Linked DNA regions of Homo sapiens. The protein of the gene in region 1 purifies or fractionates together with the protein of each later gene. This does not show direct contact. Each region holds a gene or a part of one and is shown on either strand. Other genes may lie near its edges.

Region 1 (3,500 bases):
TCTTGGAAGCTATTAATTGTGCAAAGCACTGTGTTAAACCTTTGGGGTGTGCAAACTTCAGGGACACACAGAACAGTTCAATTCAGTGATAGCATTTGGGGAAAAAGTTTTTTCTACGAGTTAACCTTTAAGCTATGCCTTGAAAAATGAGTAGCGTTTCAACAAACTAAAGGTGTAAAGTAGCATTTCTGACTAACAGAAAGGCATTACCTGTGGAATAGACAAATGCTCTATTTGTCTCTAACTGAGGCTTGCTGGGATGAACATGGAAGAGGCTCGAGAGGGAGGCTGGTACTAATCAGGGAGGGTCTCAGACCCACTGGAAGAAGTGTAGGCTTTTTTTTCCTGGAGGTAGTAGAAATCCATGAATTATTCTGAGGCAGAAGTGATATGAAATCTATATTTTATTATGATGGTTTTTAGACTCATTTAGAAATTGGGCAAATGGAAAGTGTAGTGACCTTGACAGAACATTATAACATATTAATTAAAAATTTAAATTCATAAATTCATAAATGTAGGCCAAATCAAGATACCATATTTTAGATTTTGATATACTATCAACAAACAATAACAGATTTGCTCATCGTCACTTATTCGACTAATATTTGAATGCTTTTTATGTGCATTATATTCTAGATACTAGGGATACAATAGTGAAAAAAACAAACAGCTCCTGTCCTTCTGGAACAACGGAAATACATGAAAAAAGACTGTTTTGCATTTGTTTTACTTTGGGAGGGCCTGGGAGACAGGAAAATGCAAAGACACTCTTTGAGCGCCAATGTGATGCTTAAAGGAAATACTCATTTGAGCATTTTGGATTTCTGGAATTGGAATGCCCAACTGGTATAATGCAGATGTTCCAAAACCCAAAGAAAATCTGAACCCTGAAACATGTCTGGTCCCAAGCACCTCAGATAAGGGATACTCAGCCTATACTATATGATCTAGCAATCCACTTCTGAGTATGTATCCAAAACGATTGAAAGCAGGATCTCAGGGAGACATTTGCATACCCGTGTTCATAGCAGCATTATTCATAATAGCCAAGAAGTGGAAGCAGCCCCAAAGTGACATTTCAGTTTTCCCCCTGCATTCGCTTGTCCTGGATGAGAATAGAAAGGACCATGTGTGACCTTCATTAGGGAAAGAAAAGAGAAAATTGCAGAGAAGATAAGTCTTTTCTCTAACAGTTCCCAAAATCCGTAACTGAAGTGTTTGGGCCTTCCAGATTTTCCTCTATGGGATGCGAATGACTTGGAATTTTGGGAATTCCAACTCCCCATCTCTAATTTTATTTAAATTGCTTTCTCAATTGACTGACGAAGATTAGTTGGACCCCATTTCTGAACAAGCTTGTTACACAGAAATGTTGCCAGGGCCTACTGTTTATCCTCTTGAGCCAAGAAGAGAATCCTTCAGACTTCTAAGTTACTGAACACATGCAGTATCAGAACTATTGGATACACAGAAAGTTTTGTTGTAGATAATATATTTGGAAAGTTTGGAGAAAGTTCCTCTACCCCTTGCCTTCTTTGAGCGGAGAGCTTCTTAGGATTGCTTGAATTTGCAGGCTGCATTTCTAACAGCCCTCATGGGACCTGCTGGCCTTTCTGGGCTGATTCTCTATAGCACGGGAACCGTTATGTGAACATGTGAGTTGATTATCTTTAACATTGTGTGTGGGAACAATGATAGAATAAGGACATTGCAATTTGAAGATCATAATGACATTGTTTTTTGTTTTTGTTTCGTTTTGTTTTTTGAGATGGAATCTCGCTCTGTCGCCCAGGCGGGAGTGTAGTGGCACGATCTTGGCTGACCATGGCCTCCGCCTCACAGGTTCAAGCAATTCTTGTGTCTCAGCCTCCCAAGTAGCTGGGACTACAGGCATGCGCCACCATGCCTAACTAATTTCTGTATTTTTAGTAGAGATGGAGTTTCAGCATGTTGGCCAGGGTGGTCTTGAACTCCTGACCTCATGTGATCCACCTGCTTTGGCCTACCAAAGTGTTGGGATTACAGAGGTGAACCACTGTGCCCAGCCCATAAATGACATTGTTGATTTAGGTAAAGGTCATCAATGGAAGGTTGATAAGGATCTTTACAATGTTGAATTCAGGCTGGCATCACCTGAACCACCTAAGAGAGGGACAACCACACATTATATGATTTCTGATGTGATGTAATATGAAGTACAAAGAATATACTTATGAAGTATATTCTTGCCGTCCCTCCTCCCCCCACCACCAAAAAAAGCGAGCCTGAATCCACTCAAGCCTTGAGAGCAGAATTCCAGCTCACATAAAATGCAAGAATATGGCCGGGCACAGTGGCTCACACCTGTAATCCCAGCACTTTGGGAGGCTGAGGTGGGTGGATCAGTTGAAGTCAGGAGTTCGAGACCAGCCTGGCCAACATGGTGAAACCCCTTCTCTACTAAAACACAAAAATTAGCTGGGCGTGGTGTTGTGTGCCTGTAATCCCAGCTACTTGGGAGGCTGAAGCAGGAGAATTGCTTGAACCTGGGAGACAGAGGTTGCAGTGAGCCAGGATTGTGCCACTGCACTCCAGCCTGGGCGACAGAGTGAGGCTCCATCTCAAAAAAAAAAAAAAAAAGCAAGATTAAGTTAAATGACACCATGAGCTAGAAAACAGACAAATCCAGAATTTAGGACATTCTACAGGACAATTGACTCAACTGCTTCAGCAAGTCAGACACAAGGGAGGACAGGGAGAAGATACTGCTCTATATTAAAAGAGATTAATATAGACTGAATAGAAGATGATACCAAGAAACTAGTGTTGGTATTGCTAGATGTAATAATGGCATTGTTGTATGAGAAAATGCTTATGTTTTTTAGAGATACATTCTGAAGTATGTAGGAATGTAATGATGTGATGCCTTGATTTTATTTTAATATACTACAAAAGGGAATAGAAGAAGAAGAGCGAGATAGATGAAACAAATGGAGCAAAATGTTGATAATTGTTGAATCTGAGTGGTGGTTTATTACTGTCTACTGTGGTATAGGTTTGAAAATTTTATATGATTGTATTTTACATATAATATTTCTTATAGATAGGTAGATATTAGTATGTGGGGACAATAGTGGTTATCTCTGAGTGGTGAGATTACAGAGTAGATTTTCTTTAATAAAGTTTTGTATGGTCTGTATTTTCTACAATCAGCATGTACTGTTTATTTTTCATTTTATTTGTACATTTTTTGATTTAAGCATTTTCTGCAATAAGCATGTCCATAATATTAAAAATGTAAAAAAGTTTTATATTAATATAGGACTAACCCTATTTACACTTAGTTTTCAGAGTTTATCTACAAGGCATGGTTTTCTGATCCTAACCCCCTCAAAAAATAGAAAGATCATTGCTTAACTATCAGGTTAGGAAATGCTTTTTTCTAGAGCAGCTGTAGCACTTTCAAAATTAGATCACTGGCTTATATTTTGCCACGAAGTGCAGAAAAGCATTTTTGA
Region 2 (3,500 bases), on another chromosome or scaffold:
TACAGTGAAACCCCATCTCTACTAAAAAATACAAAAATTAGCCGGGCGTGGTGGCATGTGCCTGCAGTCCCAGCCACTCTGGAGTCTGAGGCAGAGAACTGCTTGAACCCAGGAGGCAGAGGTTGCAGTGTGCTGAGATCGAGCCACTGCACTCCAGCCTGGGCGACAGAGTGAGACTCCGTCTCAAATAAATAAATAAATAAAATAGAATTGATGACACAAAATATTTCTCAATTTACAAATTACCAACTGGCAGAGAAGCTGAAAAGTTGAGAAAAATGCTAAAAGAGCAGTGGACATCTTACGCTCAATCAGAAATAAAAATAAAGCATTTCTGAAATTAGAAATACAAGGCAACAAATTTAAAAATTTATAAAAAATATGATCTGCACACAACATTTTAGGGCAAATTATCTATTTGAAACCCAATGCAATATTCTTCTACTAGGCAGAGAAATACTTTTCCACTTCACCTTTACTCCTTAATTCCACTTGATACTTACATTGCTATGCCACATGCAGAGCACATATCCTCTACTTTGTATTATAATGATAAATACAAAATCAGCCGGGAACAATGGCTCACATCTGTAATCCCAGCACTTTGGGAGCACAAGGCAAAAGCATCACTTGAGCCCAGGAGTTCAAGGTCAGACTAGGCAACACAGCAAGACCCAGTCTCTACAAAAGAAAAAAATGTATTTATGTATGTATTTTTTGTTTGTTTGTTTTGTTTTGAGAGAGTCTCACTCTGTCGCCCAGGCTGGAGTGCAGTGGCACGATCTCAGCTCACTGCAAGCGCCACCTCCCGGGTTCAAGTATTCTCCTGCCTCAGCCTTCCGAGTAGCTGCGACTACAGGCACCCGCCACCACACCCAGCTAAATTTTTTTGTATTTTTAGTAGAGAGGGGGTGTCGCTGTGTTAGCCAGGACGGTCTCAAACTCCTGACCTCGTGATCCGCCCGCCTCGGCCTCCCAAAGTGCAGGGATTACAAGCGTGAGCCACCGCGCCTGGCCTACAAAAAATTTTTTAAAAATTATCCAGGCACAGTGGCACATGCCTGTAGTCCCAATTACTCAGGAGGCTGAGGCGGGAGGATCACTTGAGCCCAGGAGGTTGAAGCTGCAGTGAGCTATGATTGTGCCACTGCCCTCCAGCCTAGGTGACACAGTGAGACCCTGTTCCAAACACACACACACACACACACACACACACACACACACACAAAGCCAAACTCTTTAAAGACAGGAGTGTTAAATACACTTCACATCCGCCACAATAGACAGCAGTGCCTTGTATATACCAGTCATCAATAAATGCTTGATGAATGAGGATTATGATTTTTTTTTTTTTTTGAGACAGAGTCTCAGCTCTGTCACCCAGGCTGGAGTCCAGTGGCACAATTTCCGCTCACTGCAGCCTCAACCTCCCAGGCTCCAGCAATTCTCCCACCTAAGCCACCTGAATAGCTGGGGCCACAGGCGTGCACCACCACACCTGGCTAATTTTTTCTTGTAGAGATGAGCTCTCACTATGTTGCCCTGGCTGGTCTCAAACTCCTGGGGCTCAACCAATCCTCCTGCCTCGGTCTCCTAAAATACTGGGATTAAGGGCAAGAGCCAAGGTAACTTGTCACTGATGCTGTCAATTTCAAGTGTCCTGAAAATTAAAACTGAAGTCTACCAATTAGAAATGTCTACCAATTAAGGTTACTTCTATTTTTAAGGTCTTCTCCTGAATAACCAAACAAGATCACATTTCATATTACTGCACAAACTAACCTCACTGAGAAACAAACAGAATTATTCTCTGAGATACTAAATTCCAGACGACAAAAATCTTCCTATTTTTAAAACAAGGTTCTTGGCCAGGCGTAGTAGCCCACGCCTGTAATCCCAGCACTTTGGGAGGCCCAGGCAGGTGGATCACCTGAGGTCAGGAGTTCAAGGCCAGCCTGGCCAACATGGGGAAACCCCGTCTCTACTAAAAAGACAAAAATTAGCTGGGTGTGGTGGCAGGTGCCTGTAATCCCAGTTACTCGGGAGGCTGAGGCCTGCGAATGGCTTGAACCCGGGAGGCAGAGGTTGCAGTGAACCAAGATCATGCCATTGCACTCCAGCCTGGGGAATAGAGTGAGACTCTGTCTCCAAAACTAAAACTAAAACTAAAATAAAATAAAACAAGGTTCTTTAGCCATACAGCCAAACCACTCAGTGACAAAATCCACCATGTTTTGATGCTTGCTCAAGCTCAAGTTTGCCATCAAAGCACTTTACCCTTAAGTCACTATATTAAGTCAATGATAATAAATATCGTATAAGTGACACATTTCTTGAGGGCAGAGACTCTGACTACACCCAGCATCTAAAACAGTACCTCATATCTGGTAGGCATACTCCATGAATATTTGCTGAAAGAATGGCATTCATGACTATCTCACGGACTTCCATGACATATTCCAGGTGCTTCTCACCATTGCTCATATCTACCCATGAAGTCCTCCTTTTTTGGGAAGGTCTCGCTTTGTTGCCCAGGCTGGAGTGCACTGGCACGATCTTGGCTCACTGCAACCTCCACCTCCTGGGTTCAAGTGATTCTCCTGCCTCCTGAGTAGCTGGGATTACAGGCATGCGCCACCATACTTGGCTAATTTTTGTATTTTTAGTAGAGATGTGGTTTCCCCGTGTTGGCCAGGCTGGTCTTGAACTCCTAACCCCAGATGATCCACCCGCCTCAGCCTCCCAAAGTGCTGGGATTACAAGCCACCCATGCAATCTTTCAATATCTCATGACCACCCTCCTCTTCAAAGCCAAGAGAACCCAGGTATAGTATGAAAGTATCTCCTGCTTTAAATGATACATTAAGATGCTTTCCCCTCAGTATGCAAAATTCTAAAGTCAAATAAATCATCAATATTTCAGAAGTCAGCAAATAGCCCTTAATGGAAAAGAAACACAAGTTTCCAGTCATTCAGCAACCCTCTGTGACCTACTAAATTAAGTACAAGATTTCTCAAAGTAAATCTAATACAAAAAGTTACAGACTTCTAAACCTCTTTCTAAATTATAAAAGGGGAGCCAGGGAGGTGTGAAAAATTACAAAAGGGGAGAATGGTGTGAACATGACCCTCTCTGAAGCAGTAAAATATCTAAAACAAGTCTGTGGGGGGGAAATTTTTTTTAAAGGCATCTAGTTCACCCTCCCACACAAAGCAGGAATTCCTCCAATGTCACCAACAGGTGGTCCTGCAGTTTTTGACAAAGAGACAGAACATTTCCCATATGAGCATTCCCATAACAGAACGCTCATTCTCTCTCAAGTCAACCCATTACCTTCTTCTTTAATCAGGATCTAAAAATACTTTAGCTTTTATCAACTGACTCTTCTTCTGGCCCCAACTTCATCTCAGCATCATGAACATAAAGCTCTTCTAGCCGGGCATGGTGATTCACACCTGTAATCCCAGCACTTTGAGAGGCCGAGACGGGTGGATCACAA

The links. The genes of interacting proteins can lie anywhere in the genome.
Region 2: the proteins of RAD51AP1 (region 1) and WDR20 purify together in Homo sapiens (affinity purification with mass spectrometry; one large-scale study listed by BioGRID and IntAct). This does not show direct contact.

The regions. Positions count from the first base shown.
Region 1 is NC_000012.12:4,548,890-4,552,389, forward strand, and holds part of RAD51AP1 (RAD51-associated protein 1), read left to right. Parts: intron 1-3,500. UniProt on the Homo sapiens protein: Structure-specific DNA-binding protein involved in DNA repair by promoting RAD51-mediated homologous recombination.
Region 2 is NC_000014.9:102,146,397-102,149,896, reverse strand, and holds part of WDR20 (WD repeat-containing protein 20), read right to left. Parts: intron 1-3,500. UniProt on the Homo sapiens protein: Regulator of deubiquitinating complexes. Activates deubiquitinating activity of complexes containing USP12. Anchors at the base of the ubiquitin-contacting loop of USP12 and remotely modulates the catalytic center of the enzyme.